Linked DNA regions of Homo sapiens: region 2 is linked to region 1. A link means that fine-mapping ties the variant in region 1 to the expression of a gene that starts in the linked region. Tissue or cell type: whole blood. Region 1 holds a variant in brackets; the other region holds the start of a gene. All regions are shown on one strand. Distances are between the middles of the regions.

The links. PIP is the estimated chance that this variant, and not a neighbour inherited with it, causes the effect. A credible set is the group of variants that fine-mapping cannot tell apart.
Region 2: LINC02930 starts here. The variant in region 1 is the best candidate, but not a certain one, in a credible set for the expression of LINC02930 in whole blood (TOPMed, PIP 0.77).

What each region holds. Positions count from the first base shown.
Region 1 is chr10:120,795,422-120,803,531 of GRCh38, forward strand. All of the region lies in intron 2 of LINC02930 (long intergenic non-protein coding RNA 2930), which reads left to right. All of the region lies in intron 1 of WDR11-DT (WDR11 divergent transcript), which reads right to left. Among named protein-coding and RNA genes, the nearest start is that of WDR11-DT, 52 kb to the right of the region's middle. RefSeq lists an enhancer at 3,306-3,974. The variant C/A (reference allele first, on the strand shown) is at 4,416.
Region 2 is chr10:120,605,201-120,613,310 of GRCh38, forward strand. LINC02930 (long intergenic non-protein coding RNA 2930) reads left to right here and starts at 3,382. Exons shown (of 5, transcript XR_002957103.2): 1 at 3,382-3,573.

The DNA.
Region 1 (8,110 bases):
TTGAGAGGTGCTATAATATACACACCGCATCTCGAGTGTTTGTTTAGTAAATTAAAAAAATGTAAAATATCTCAGTAAGTTTTATAATGATTACATTTTGAAATATATTTTTGCTATTTTGGATAAAATAAAACTAAATCATTTAATTTCACTTGCTTTTTACTTTTTAAATTTTAAAATTTACATTTTAAATTGCATGTGTGACTTACATTCTGTTTCTATTGGATAGCACAATACTAGATACTATTGGACACCTCTTAATCAATTTAAACAACAGGAGCTACATTTATTAGGTTTTACTATGTGTCCAACACCAAATGAAACTATTTATGTATATAATTTTATTTAATCCTTTCAACTTTTTGATAGGACTCGTTATCCCTGTGTTATAAAGGAGAAAACTGAAGGTCAGAGAAGTTAAGTAACTTATCCATGTTCACACAAGGAGTCTTAATTCAAATCAGTCTTTGGCTCAAAAGTCTGTGCTGTGATGCTTTTTGCTAAAGCAAATGAAGGATTTCCTAATCTCTAATAGACATATAGGTTAATGGGAAAGACAATTTGTTAGCAGTCTGTTTGTTTTGGTAACTGTATATTTTGATAGGATTTCAAATTTAGAGAAAAATTGTAAGAATAGTACAAGGAACTCACATGTACATGGTCCAGACTCACCATCTGTCTATAGGCTAGGGATAGAGAGAGAGAAAAAGAGGATTTTTCCCCTCAAACCATTTGGGAGTAAGTTGCAGACATCAGGTCCATATACTCCAAGTACTGATGTGTGTGTGCTTCCTTAGAACAAAGACATTCTCTTATTTAGTCACAATCCAATGTTCAAAATTAGGAATTTTAACAGTGATATAATACCATTTCCCAATGATAGTCCATATTCAGATTTCATCAGTTGTCCCAGTAATGTCCTTTTCAGCTACTTTCCCCCATTGGTTCAGAGTCCAGTCCAGGATAATGCATTAGATTTAGTTGTCACGTCTCCTTAATCTCCTTTAATCTAGAACAGTTCCTCAGCTTGGTGTGCTGCTTGACTCTGATATTTTTAAAGAATGCAACCCATTATTTTGTAGAATGTTCTTTAGTATAGTTTATCTGGATTCCTTTAGGATCAGAATCAGGTTTTGCACTTTCAGCAAGAATATTACAAAGTGTTCCTGGTCTCACTCAGCACATATTTGCTAGCTGCTTTTAAATATTGTTTATGAGACTTTAGCATAAAAGTAAGAAATAAGTCTTTCAAAAACATTTCTAGATTTGGTCCAAATATTTCTAGAAATTGGTCCAAATATTCCTGTGCAAAACAAGTGTAAATGTTAGGTGTAAAATATAGATAATGATAAATATGGATTATAATAATTATAACATGGCTATATTTTCATATTTTCCTGACCCTGTATAGAAAACAATTATTTTTAATTCAGTCTAGCAATTTGAAAGAAAGATTAGAATATATGAGTTGGCGATGGATAGATAGGAAAAGAGAGTGAGTATAAGGTCATTTAACCACTAAAGATGGTTTAATTTCAAGGCACCTGTTGTTTAGAGTAAAATAATTTCTTTGTTCTCTTTTCTCGTTCTTTTCACTTCAATTCATATGATAAGTGCTTTGATTAGAGTCATCAAACTGCCATTGCCAGATCCACTGCTATGCTGCAAGAAGATGGTGTTTGTTCAGAGTTAGCAGCAAACTCTTATAATCTCATTTCATTCAAATGATGTTTTTATTGCAAGATGTAACACCAGCAACCTAAACTGTCTCTGACAGTCTCATATTTTTCTTGTTTAAGAAACAGCTGTCAAAAGGATCTGTGTGAGCTAAGCAACTGACAAATTACAGGAAAATTATATTTTTAATCAATCACTTGCCTAAAGTCATGGAATGTGGTTTATAGTTATCCAGATATAACGCCATTTAGAAACCTTTTCTTTCATCATAGGGCATCTAGTAATTTTTATGGTTTTCTTCTTATCCTGTGGCCAAAAAAAAGGATGTCTAAGACAAATGCACTTTAAATATAAAGATATAGACTGAAAGGAAAAGTATAGAAAAACATATACCATGCAAAATGTGAGCTTAATAAACACGATGTGGTGTGGCTATATTAATACCAGTCAAAATAAATTTCAAGGCAAGGACTATGAATAGAGATAAAGCACATTTAATAATGACAAAAGGGTCAATTCATCAGAATACATGACGACAAAAGATGTATGTGACCTTCAAAATATACAAAATATATAGAGAAATTCAAAATCCACAAAGAAAAAAATGGCAGTGTTAGAGAAATAGAAGTAATTGGAGATTTTAACACCTCTTGTTCAATAACTGACAGAAAAAATGGGACAAAAAGATGGGTAAGGATATAGATTTGACTATCAACAAACTTGACCCAATTGGCATTTACTGAACAGTGGTAGAATACACATTCACTTTTTAAGAACACACAGAACATTCACCAAGAGGCTATATACTAGGTTCTAAAATGTCTCAATAAATTTCAAAATATTGGCTCCCTCTCCCCCTCCCCCTCTTTGCATGGTTTCCCTCTGATGCCCAGCCGAGGCTGGACTGTACTGCCGCCATCTGGACTCACTGCAACCCCCCCTGCCTGATTCTCCTGCCTCAGCCTGCCGAGTGCCTGGGATTGCAAGCGCGCACCGCCACGCCTGACTGGTTTTCGTATTTTTTTGGTGGAGACGGGGTTTCGCAGTGCTGGCCCGGCTGGTCTCCAGCTCCTGACCGCGAGTGATCTGCCAGCCTTGGCCTCCTGAGGTGCTGGGATTGCAGACGGAGTCTCACTCACTCAGTGCTCAGTGGTGCCCAGGCTGGAGTGCAGTGGCGTGATCTCGGCTCGCTACAACCTCCACCTCCCAGCCGCCTGCCTTGGCCTCCCAAAGCGCCGAGATGGCAGCCTCTGCCCGGCCACCACCCCATCTAGGAAGTGAGGAGCGTCTCTGCCTGGCTGCCCATTGTCTGGGATGTGAGGAGCCCCTCTGCCCGGCCGCCCAGTCTGGGAAGTGAGGAGCGCCTCTTCCTGGCCGTCATCCCGTCTAGGAAGTGAGGAGCGTCTCTGCCCGGCAGCCCATCGTCTGGGATGTGGGGAGCGCCTCTGCCCCGCCGCCCCGTCTGAGATGTGAAGAGCGCCTCTGTCCAGCCGCGACCCCGTCTGAGAACTGAGGAGTGTCTCTGCCCCGCCGCCACGCCGTCTGGGAGGTGAGGAGCGTCTGTGACCAGCCGCCCCGTCTGAGAAGTGAGGAGCCCCTCCGCCCGGCAGCCGCCCCGTCCGGGAGGTGGGGGGGGCAGCCCCCGCCCGGCCAGCCGCCCCGTCTGGGAGGTTGGGGGGCGCCTCTGCCCGGCCACCCCGTCTGGGAGGTGTACCCAATAGCTCATTGAGAACGGGCCATGATGACATGACGATGGTGGTTTTGTCGAATAGAAAAGGGGGAAATGTGGGGAAAAGAAAGAGAGATCAGGATTGTTACTATGTCTGTGTAGAAAGAAGTAGACATAGGAGACTCCATTTTGTTCTGTACTAAGAAAAATTCTTCTGCCTTGGGATGCTGTTAATCTATAACCTTACCCCCAACCCCGTGCTCTCTGAAACATGTGCTGTGTCCACTAAGGGTTAAATGGATTAAGGGCGGTGCAAGATGTGCTTTGTTAAACAGATGCTTGAAGGCAGCTTGCTCGTTAAGAGTCATCACCACTCCCTAATCTCAAGGACCCAGGGACACAAACACTGCGGAAGGCAGCAGGGCCCTCTGCCTAGGAAAACCAGAGACCTTTGTTCACATGTTTATCTGCTGACCTTCCCTCCACTATTGTCCTATGACCCTGCCAAATCCCCCTCTCTGAGAAACACCCAAGAATGATCAATAAATACTAAAAAAATAAAAAAATAAAAATAAAAATAATTTCAAAATATTGAAATCTTTAAAAGCTTATTTAGAACCATAAAATTAAATTAGAAATCAATAACAATAAAGTATCTAGGAAGTCTCCAAAGGCTTAAAAATTAAACTACCCCCTTGTAAAAAATGCACAGGTCAAAGAGGAAATTATAAGCATTAAGAAAATATTTTATACAGAAAAGTGATTTTAAAACACATATCAAAAATTCAGAGATTCTGCTAAAGCACTGACTTAAGAGAGATGTATAGCTTCGAAACCACCTTTGCAAAATTATGATAGAAAGAAAAATCTGACATGGCTGATTCCATCTCACTTCTAACCTCACAGGCTAGCTGTTTTTGCTAATTCCTGGGCATGGGCCAAGCTAACTTTGGGAGAAATTTGGTTTATATTTTAAATAACAATAGCCCTTCCCTAAAACTAAACTGACCTTGTAAAACTAATGAAAGGTCATCAGGTTAGGAGAATGAGAGGGGCTGGAATTCTGCTA[C/A]AATGTAAAGTAGGTAAACAATTACAGCCATTTTCCCGGAGGTCACAAGATTTGCAACTTCCCCAATTACTCCTGCAGATAACATTACTATTGTAGAACCCAAGTTTGGCTTTTTGAAGTGTCTTTTCAGGGTTTTGCACTTCTAACAACCAGATGGCCCCATTTGGACCTGTGACTTAACCAGTTCTGTGGCCCCACCTAGAAGCCAACTCAGCTCATGAGGACCATATTTCATACCACCATCATTGCATCCCCAACCAATTAGCAGCACCTATAGCCTAGCCCCCTGCCCACCAAACTATCTTTGAAGAACCCCTAACCTCCAAGCCTTCAGTGAGATTGATTTGAGTAATAACTTCGTCTCTCACCTGGTGTGGCTAGTCTCATGTTAATTAAACTCTTTTTTTATGGCAATGCCTTGAGTCTCCGTGAACTGATTTTGTTTGTGCAAGAAGAACCCATCGGGCAGTTACAGATTTAAATCTGAAATCACTGACTTGAAATATTTCTTCTTTTAAAATATGTTTTCACATTATGAAACTAAGAAAACATGGGTGAATTAAACTCAAAATAAGTTTAAGGGAAGAAAGAAAGATCAGCAGAAATCAAAGAAGTAGAAAACAGATAAATAAGAGAAAATTAGCAAGGACAATAGTTACTTTTGTGAATAAAATGGTAACATTGATAACCCCACAACAAGACTTCACCTGAGGGTTGATCAGAGAATCTGAGCCAATATGAGTGATACAGAATATGGTAGGAATCTGACCTCATGCAATTGTGCTGTAAACCAGAAATAAAACTCTAAGCCTCTCAGCCAACTGATGGATGTTCCTCTTGGCCAAGGGCATTCCAAAGCAAACCCGAAAAACTATTTAATGCAAGGATGGAAAGGAGTGGGGGTCAGACATGCCTCATTGTAACCTCTTCCCTGTGGAATTCAGGCACAACTGATCAGCATTAACATTAAAACAGAGATTCTAAGACTGAGAGAACAAACTGTTTGTAGCAATAAGATACCAAATTCCAACCTGACTCTAGTATAGTATTGCATGACAAGTAGCAGGCCCTGAAAGAAATCAGTCTTTTGTCCCAAAATATACTTATTTGATATATTTTGAAATGGTCTTGCAAAGCTGTCTCTTGTGGGGGAAATTTACATTCTATAGAGAATCCCCTGTTCTTTCCAGGTCTTTTTCTGATCCTGAAGAGGTTGGCTGAGAGTCTAGCACCTTTTGAGGGTCTGAATAGAAAACACTTGCCATCTATTGCCTCTAAGGGCGGCCACCTAGGAGACTTCATCTACATAAGAACCCTGTTTTCCACAGTCCTTTATCTTAACCCAAACACTCCTTTCTATTGATTCCAGGTCTTCAGATAACCAATTGCCAATCAGAAAATCTTTGAATCCACCTATGACCCGAAAGCCCTCCCACTTTGAGTTGCCTGCCTTTCCAAACTAATGAACACCTTATATGTATTGATTGATGTCTGTCTGTAACTTCTGTCCCTCTAAAATGTTTAAAATCAAACTGTAAAACAACCACTTTGGGGACATGTTTTCAGGACCTCCTGGGGCTGTGTCACAAGCCTTGGTCACTCATATTTGGCTCAGAATAAACCTCCTTAAATAGTTTATAGCATTTGACTCCTACGTTGACAGGGGTAACTGGTTAAACAGTCTATGTGAAACAAGTGCTTTGGTGTCCAAAGCCTATAGAGCCACCAGTCAGGAACAAAACCTGGACTAGAAGTGGGAGAAATCCAGGATAAACTGGAGCCTCGGAGGACCCACTAGGATTCAGGGGCACAAGCTGGAACGTGCATAGGCCTTTCACTGCCTCTGAGCGTCCAACTTCAATGTCTCAAGTGAGCTGCTGGTGCTCTTGTTGTACAGCTGCATAGGTGGCTCAACCAGGGTTGAGAAAAGCTGGAGGCAGAAGCCCAGAAATGAGGGGAGCTGTAGACCTGGCTCTTGCCCCCACATATATGATGAACCACCAAAGAACCAGCAATGTGCAGGAGCTCAGCCACGCCTTCCCATACATCCACTGGCTGCCACTTTATTCTACTGTGAACCCCAAATATCTGAAAGAGGTCTCAGTTAATTTTGAAAGTTTATTTTGCCAAGGTTGAGGACACATGCCCATGACACAGCCTCAGGAGGTCCTGACAACATGTGCCCAAGGTGGTCAGAGCACAGTTTGGTTTTATACATTTTAGGGAGACATGAGACATCAATCAACATATGTAAGATGAACATTGGTTCTGTCTGGAAAGGTGGGACAAGTCCAAGTGGAGAGGGGGTTTCTAGGCCATAGGTCAATAAGAAAGAAATGGTTGCAATCTTTTGAGTTTCTGATTAGCCTCTCCAAAGGAGGCAATCAGATACATATTTATCTCAGTGAGCAGAGGGGTGACTTTGAATAGAATGGGAGGCAGGATTGCCCTAAGCAGTTCTCAGCTTGATTTTTCCCTTCAACTTAGTGATTTGGGGGCCCCAAGATATTTTCCTTTCACACTGTCTTGCACATCTCACATAAATTTCTCTTGGGGACAACCCTGACTCAGAACCAAACAGAGAAGGGAATTCTGAGAAAGGTAGTTTTTGCTTTAGCATGTTGACACAATACCTATCCACACTGATTGAGAAAACAAAGAAAATACAAATTACCAAAATCAGGATTGAAAGAGGTGATATCACTATAGATTTTATAAACATTTATGAAAAACAAGCCCTGGCTCATTCATTGCTCACCTTCAGAATTTCCTGGTTGTGTGTGCTCCTGGGAGAAAGAAAGTTTACATTAAAAAAGAAAAAGACATCCAATTACCTATCCTTCTTGTTTCCTTGCTGAGTTAAATATGCCTATGTATTAAAGCAAAAATTTAAACAATCGATCAATTAGAGTATTAGGATGTACTTTGCTAAAGGATTCTTCAGGCAGCAGAACATGGACAAGTTTCATGGTAGGTTATTTCACTGACAAGCTCAAGGGCAAGAACGGTGAAATTTAAAATCATTAGCCTCTGCGCATTAAAGATTGGTGAGAAATGAGGACAACATTTCAGAAATGAAAATTATATGCCCACAATACTTTCAAGCAGAATTAAACACAATCTTAAGACCCACTTATTGCCGGAAGTGAACATTCTTTGCACATGCTCCAGCTCCCTTGTTTCCTTACAATACAGATTCTTTGCCTTTTGTAGTCAGGATTAAAGGACATAACATCCCTCACTATGCAGAGCGTTGTGCAAATAGTGATCATGAGAAAGGAGCCTGTGAGTTAGGTTTCTGCTTTATTTGCCCATACAAAGAGAACAGAGCCTTCTAGAGTAGCTTTCCCATTGTCTCATTATTTGTCATACAACTCAGCACACACTGGAAGACAATCACAAGGTGGGCACACAGAGGTTTGATCGAGGTCCTGTTACTCAAAGCTCCCCTTTGCCTCTATCTCTATTGCCAATGAGGAAATGTATCTGATCAATTAACTCACACTAGCATACAGAGGTGCCTTTTCAGATCAGAGTATTTCTAAAAAGATATCTGGAGCCGAGCATGGTGGTTCATGCCTGTAATCCCAGCACTTTGTGAGGCCAAGGTGGGTGGATCATGAGGTCAGGAGTTCAAGACCAGCCTGGCCAACATGGTGAAACGCGGTCTCTACTAAAAATACAAAAATTAGCCA
Region 2 (8,110 bases), 190 kb before region 1:
AGCAGGTTTGCAATATGATAGCCCACTCAATTAATTTTTTTTTCCCCAAGGGGCCTAAGTAGTATAGCTATTCTTTAATTTGAAATGAGTTAAGTTTGGGGAATGATAGCATATTTAATGTACAGCTGGGCACTGGTGCATTCTAACTCTGGCTATGTTCTCTTTTGTGGTTTTGCCTTGGTCTCTATGTCCTTGGGGTGTCTTTTCTCTGTCTCTATACATCACAGTGTGTTTCTGACTTCTCTGCTCATTCTTCTACCAGCACCTCTCTGCCTCTCTGTTTGTCTGTCACTGTTGTCTCTCTCTGTCGTCCTGTCATATTATCAGGCTGCCTGTTTGGCTACAGTAAAACTTCATCAGCCTCCCCTACACTGAGAGCAGAGCTTTTTTGTGGAACACAATAGCATTCAGAAGAGAGAAAAATCTCTTTAAGTGTGCAAATGCTGTCTCATTATCCTGAGACTGGAGGGAGGAACCTCTCAAGCTTTGTCATTTCAGTAAGAAACAAAAACCTTTGAAATTTTTACAATTATCTTCACACTCATATCTCCTTGTCCCCTACACCAGCTAAAAGATGAGTGAATAGCGCTGAGTGCTCGTTGGCTGGTCCATGGAGGGAAGGATCATTTATTGAGATATTAATTCAGGTTCTATCTTTGCTGCTGAAAGAGAATCAAAAAGAATGAGAAGCTTTGCTGTCCTGTGCTCTGGGTCTCTCCCTCCCCCAGGCCCTCAGCTGGGCAAGGAGGCAGGGAGGGCCTATTATACATGCTTTTATACACACACACACACACACACACACACACACACACACACACACAGAAATACATAAGCTTAATCTCTTCTTTTGGTTGAAAAAGTATAGCTGAGTGGGTGAGAGTAATAGCTCCAGAATTATGCAAATCATAGCTCAAACACAGGTTCATACCCACAGATTTACATCCCAGCTGTACTATGTGGCTTTGGGTGAGTTACCTAGATTCTCTTACCTTCAGTTTGTTCATCTGTAACATGGTGATAATGAGGAAGTTACTATGAAAATGAAATGAATCAATTCATTTAAAATATCTAGAAAAAGTGCTTGGCCCCTGGCAAGTACCTGAGAAGCTGGCTCTTATTTTCACTATTACTTACTGACTAATCTTGGAGAAGGAAATTGTTAGTGATTACCCACCGTAAAGCTTTGAACTGGATGACTTCTGAAGTTCTATACTTCTCTAAACACCATGGACACGGGTTTCTCATAAGGCCTTATACTCTTCTCTACTTTTGACTAACAATGGGTAAAAGCCATGATTAGAAATTGGACTGAAAATACAGTGGCTTAACACTTTAAAAAGAAAGATCTAGGGCTCACAGAAGACCAACCAATGATCTGAGTCATGTGGCAAAGAGCACGTAGGGCAGGGTTTGGGTTAGGTATACCGTAGCATTATTAGCACAGTTCACAAACTCTTCTTCCTTTGGGACACTAGTGGCCCCAGGAGGGAATGCAATTTACCTCCGAGAGAGTGACTAACTGGACAAATAAACAAGAGAAGAAAAAAGTGAAGACATTGAAACAAAAAAATTGGCTTATCTGATTTATAAAATAATCTGCTAGAGGGTGGCTGATGTCTTCACAAAGCCTTTCACTTGCATGAACTCCGGGCTGCTGTTGGGAGGAGCATGTTCAAGGGCTCCCTGGCTACTATATCTTTTGACTCTTTGGGAGAGAGAAGAGGCAAGGGCTTCAAATCAGCCTAGAGTTTGAGACTGAGCTATTTGAAATAGTGAGAGGAAAGAACAGTAGCTGTCCTGAACATGCAGAAAGTCTTGACTGATCAGTATCTGCAGGGCAGATTTTCAATCCTTTTAATCCCTTTGAGATGGATTCCACAGGCTCTACTGGGTAGTGGATCCAAGATGGCTGTGTGATCCTGGACAAGCCTCATCTGTAAAATGGCAGCAATACCTGCCCTATCTAACTCATAGAGTGGCTGTCAGACTCAGAGAAGACAACAAGTGAATGCTTGGGGACCTGACCAGTTGTAATGGCACAAGTGGGAAAATGCTTCCCATTCTCGTTCTTTTTCTCTCTCATTCACTTATGTCCCCATATCTGTAGTCAGGCATTTGTGGTATAAATAGCTTGGTTAGGAGTAGAGTGGGTAGCCATGAGCAGGGTGTGGAAGTTAAAATGGCACCTTTGCCAATTCCAGCCAAGCCTATGGCCAACAGCCAGGCCTGGCCTCTTCCACTTGACACTGGCCTGCTGGTGAGACTCACAAGACCTCCTTGCTTTGTAAACATCATCCAAAATTCTTCCATCAGTTGACATCACCATCTAGTGGGGTCTTCTCTCATGGGAACTTCTGCTCAGAGAGCGAATTGCTATGAGTCAGTAGGAATGACTAACAGAGATTCCAGAGAGAAGACACTGCCAGTTCATGGCCTCTTAAAGAAATGAATACATCAGTTAAAAGGCTCTTGTCTGCTGTCTATGACTTTCAGAACAACTTCTCCCAGTTGTCTGACATTGAGAGTAATGGAACCCTTGGGAGAAGTATCAACGTAATTAACAAACTTAGACATAATGATCCCTGATACTTTTAACAAAACATAAAATAACCAAGAAATGTCTACCACTTTATAAGTTCACATTGGAAACACACCTGATATAAATAATGAGTCAGAACAGTGGTTTCACTATTAAAAGTCAGCAGGTTTCATTATTAAAAGTCAGCCAAGAAAACGTGAAAACTTACAGGCTGAAAGAATAATTAAAGGCGATCACTATAGATTTTAAGCATTATTAGTTCTCAAAACTTCTGACTGGCTGATGATGAAGACAAATTCATTCTAATTGTCCTTGATAATTTCATGCTTTTAAAATCTCATGGCAAGACCAACTTGGGAGCCATAGTCCTCAACAGTGGGCATGGTCAGAATGATGGCTGGTAAGAGCAGAGCCCTAATCCATGACAGAATCTGTTAGCCTGCATGGATACAAGTGGGATGATGACTAATGAAGCCACTATTTAGCATTGTATCTAGGATTTCCTTGCCATCTGTAAACCGTGACCCCTCCCTTCAGGCAGTTTTTTAACCTGAGGTGGTTACCTGTTTTTGTTTGCTGTCCTACACTCCTGGCCCCTTGATAGAATTCAACTCTTCTTTGATAACGATTCAGTCTTCCCCTGTTCAAGTGATCAATGTGGGGCTGACCCCACCTCAGCTTCAGAGATGAGCATGTGACCCTGCCTGGCCAATGAGAATACCATATCTCTCTGACCATAGTGATTGGTTAAGGGATGAACATGTGGCCCACAGCTGACCAATCAGAGCTACTGAGACTCAGTTCTATGGTTTCAATGGAAACCACTGAAAAAGAGAAACTCTCTTTTGGCTAGAGTTGCTGTGAGGATGGAATGGGGAACCTGGACAGCTCCAGCAATCTTACTGCAGAAGGTGCTTCTGGGTGGATCCCAGGCAGAGGAATCAGAGGCAAAACATGGAGGGAGTGAACTCCTGAAATCACTTGGGTTCTGAATCCAGCCAAGCCCGAAACCAGCCCTGCCCTGGGCTTTTCAGGTACTTGAGCCAATGCATTCTCTTTTCCTCTTCATCAAGGTTTGTTTAGAGTTTGCATCCCACGTGACTGAACAGAATGGACATTGCTCTTAGCAAGGGACAGTAACCATGAGTCCAAGTCCTGAAACAGAGATGGGGTCCCCTTCCTCCCTTCTCACTGGTTTCCTTCCTCCTGAGTGGGGTCTATCTGAGCCTGGCATTTCCTTCGTGACAGTTTCATTTGCTCCTGGACGGTTCCCTTGCTCACCATCAGCCCTCGGGCCAGCTCTAACACTCAGTTTGTCCAGATAATGTTAGGAACCTGTAAAGAGGAACTCTATGTTGTTCAACTTTTTCTCTCATTAGCACACTGTTTTTCTGTCCCGGGTGATGCAGGCTGAATGCAAAGCAGCAAGATGTGCTGGTTTGAATTCCGTGGCCTTCCTTCATCAGCCTGAGTGTTTGTGTACACACAGCTGGGCTGCAACGTCAGTTTCTGTCTGATGGCTCAGAGCCACAATTTTACCCTGTTATTGATGCCCATTATGTCATTTTAGAAAATGTAGGGATGTGGCTGTCCAACTTATCTGAATATCTGTATATAAATAAATAAATGTACATTTAAATCCATCCTAACTTTGACGTGATCTGAGGGAAAAATGAGGTCTTTGTGTTTTCCCATAGAAATAAGAAGAAAGTAGGTTAATAAACCATCAGTATCACAAGCAATAATGCAACACATGAAATATCATTTGCAAATTATTTTTGCAATTACAATGTTGGTTTTCCATGAAGAGTTGTAGCAGCTGCCTCCTCTCTCAAATAACATATTCACCTGTGGACAGATGGGGAATTGCTAAGATCCCAGCTTATGTTTGTGAAAAGAGAAGCACCACAGTTTAGTGAGCAAGGAGGTTACTAAGCTTGGTGTGCACTCAAAGGCCATGTCTGCACTGTGTGTGATGAAGTGGAGGCTTTGGATACCCATCAGCAAGTTTTATGTTAATAAAATATTTTTTCTTCTATCAAATGCTAAGACCAAAAAGTTTGTCATCTGAATGTAATCGCGTAATTGTCTTGACTCTCAGCTCCATTTTGTGCTCAGAAGAAAGCAGTTGTGTCACGAAATGGAAAGATGAGGTCTAGGTTCAGTAGACCAGTATTGGCATTCTGGGAAAAATAAGACCCCAAAGATAACTTTTTACCATGATTTCACAGACAAATAGGACCTGAGATTTTCTTTTTATGGAGCAAGAAAGCAATGCTTATGAGGACCAGATCTGGGTCTAGTACTACCAAAGAGACTGCAGAGACTTGTGGAGGCATGTGATGGTGTTTCTGAACAATGTTTTTAAATTGTATATGTTTTGTAACAGGAAGAGAGAGATAGGGAAAGGGAGGCGGGAGGAAGGAAAGAAGAAAATAAGAGGAAGGAAGGAAGAATGGAGGAAAATTTCTCTTAATCAGAGAAATAATGAGAGCAAAAAAGAAAAAGAAACCCAGAGAGTCAGAATTCTATTGCAGCATCGTTGGCTAGAGAAAAGGACACTCGGGATTTGACAGGTCGTTGGGAGTGGCTGCTGGGTTTGAGCAGAGTATAACACATCAAGAGCTATGATATACGAAACTGAGTAGGCTTATTTCTTGCATGGCAGAGGAAGGATTAGAACCAATGAGTAGGAAAGAGACTTTGGTTCAGTTTTAAGAACTTTCTTAATAGAGAAATGGGCTTGCCAGTGAGTAGTGAGTTTCTTGTCTGGAGACTTTCCAGCAGAGACCAAACACATATAGGGTACGTTGACAAGGGAATTTAAACATTGAGGAAAATGTTAGACTAACTACTGAGATTCTATGTTTCACATTCGACTCTTGGAAATTAAGCAGTCATCTTAATAGAATACCTGGAAGAATCTGAAGCCACTGGGAACAAATAACCCTTAGACTCATGCAGAGTTCAGAGGAGGAAAAAGCTATGGCAGCAAGAACAAAGCACAAACCAAGTTAACACTTTGCAGCAATGAGGCAATTACTTCCCTCCAAAAACTCCACAGGGAACAATAGTAGGTAGAAGTTAAATCACAAACACTTCCCCTCATTATCTAGGAAATAACTTGAGCTGCCCTTCTAATTAGCATCTGTAAGCAGCCCTGTGCTGTCAGTTCTGGATAACTCTCAGAACCTAGTAAGATGATTATACAAGATGCTCAATCCCATGGTCATTGTTGGCCAGAACACTGCCACCCACACAATGACATGAGTAAGAGGCACTGCAGAAGCCACTTAAACTCCTGGACATATGGGCATAATAACATTTGGAGCTATTGTATAGTTCTGCAATTCAGTGAGCTTCAGCATATTCTGAGAATGAACAAGCTTCCTTCTTATGGTTAGAGTTGCTTTGGCACCTAACTCTCCATGTAAAGAGCCTTGTGTGCAGGGGCAGAGATGATTACATTTAAAATAAAGGCTTACATTTGCATTAATCACATTTATTAGGAAGCTAAGCAAAATCTAAGCTACTGTTTAAAGGTTCTGATGGAAAACATTTTCTCCTTCCACCTGTTCTTGGGGCAATATATTCTATGGACATGGTGACGGCCACTTTCTTCAGGTTGTCCTAGGTAGCTATTTATAAAATCATAGTTATAGAATGTTGGGTCACTTTTTAATGTGCTTATTAAAGCCAAGGAAATAATTTGGCATAACTCCCCAGGCATACTAGAGAAAACCAAGGCATGATCCAAGTAAGAGTCTCAATTTTGCATTTCTCTACTTTCTTCTGGGAGCTTGTCAATATTTGCTATTTGGTTTTCTTACTTTTTTACTTTGAAATCACTATAGGTGTGGGTTGGGGAAGTGAGGATGAGATACACTTTCAAAAAGTTCATACGGGCTGGAAAGGAGATGGGCACCTTAAGTCCCTGGGAGGAATTCATCAAGTATTAGTTATTTTCATGTGTCATGGGTGAGAAGCTTTTCTCCTCTCATCCAAGCAAGCCCAGCCTTTGGTTTTTCCAAGGCAGAGACCGTCTACTGGTCTCTAAGGACTTTCTGTAAACATCTTGTTAATTAGCTGTTAAGCACATTAAGTGAGAAATAAACATGAGTGACTTCATATTTATAGAGTTTGACAGGGGTAAAATCAATTGCTAATTGAGAAGAAGAATTTGAAAAAGAGACAAAAATATACCTAAGGATTTTGGTTTTGAGTCTCTGTTTCTATAGCCTAATTTTTCTCCTGGTTGTATAGACTATCATTTCTTGTTTCTTGGCCTGTACAGTAATTTTTATCTGGGTGCTGAACACTGTAAATTTTACTTTGTTGAGTATTTGGATTTTGTTGTCATCCTTTAAAGAGAGTTAGACTTTGCTCTGGCAGAAAGTTGTTATTTGAGCATCAAATTGTTTTTGTTTTGTTTTGTTTTTGAGGTTTGTTTTTAAGCTTTATTAGAGTGGTCCTAAAGTAGTCTGTAGGGCTAGTACAATGGCATGGCCCTCATGAAGTCTCTACTAAATGCTCTGGGATTTTAACCAGGTCTCTCTACTCTGGCTGGTTGGAGCTAAACTATCTTGCATCCCTGCGTGAGCTCTGGGAATTGCTCAGCTCACAGCTTACAGGTAGCAGTTCTTTGACCAGTTCTATGGAGTTTTACTCTGAAAATACACAGCTCAGTTTTCAGTCAGAGACCCATAGAGACACCCATGCAGATTTCTGGAGCTTTTTCTTTGTACGTTTTTTTCCTCTCCAGTATACTACCTCACAAAGCTGCCTCAGTCTCTCTAAACTATGATCCCTGTCTTGTCAATTCACAAAGACTGCTGTGTTCTCCTTGGCATCGCTTTGGGCACTGAGGTCTGGAAGGTGCCTCCAGGCAGAAATCTGGAGTGGTTGTGGGGCTCACCTTGTTATTTATCTTCTCTCAGGGACTATGTTCTTAATGCTACCTGTTGTCCAATGCCTGAAAGCAGTTTTATATATTCTATTTAGTTTTCTAGTAATTTATGATGGGAAAATATATCAGCTTCCAGCTACTCTGTCATGGCCAGAAATGGAAGTTCTTCATTTCCTAGTCTTTGCATACACATGTTGCACTGTTTCTGCTGCCAACAATTCATCAAACATTACATAGTTGAATAGAAACAGGACCTGGAGGTTGGGGTTGGAGAGGAGATTGTAACTCAGTGGCAAGACATTCATATAAATAAGTCCACCATGGGGAAGAATAATAGAGACGTGTAGTCTGGGCATGGCCTGGCTTTCCCTGTCTAGGACTCTCACACCGATAACCCTCTAAGCTGGGCTTAAACACTTCTTCCCTTTCCCATTATCAATACTGACTCATCCTTGACCCAGACTTACTTTTGTTTATTTGTTGTTTTGAAGCAGTCTTTTATTCTTTTTTATTTTAAACTTTTATTTTAAGTTCAGGCTACACGTGCAGGTTTGTTATATAGGTAAACTTGTGTCGTGGAGGTTTGTTGGACAGGTTGTTTCATCACCCAGGTATTAAGCCTAGTACCCATTAGTTATTTTTCCTGACCCTCTCCCTCCTCCTTT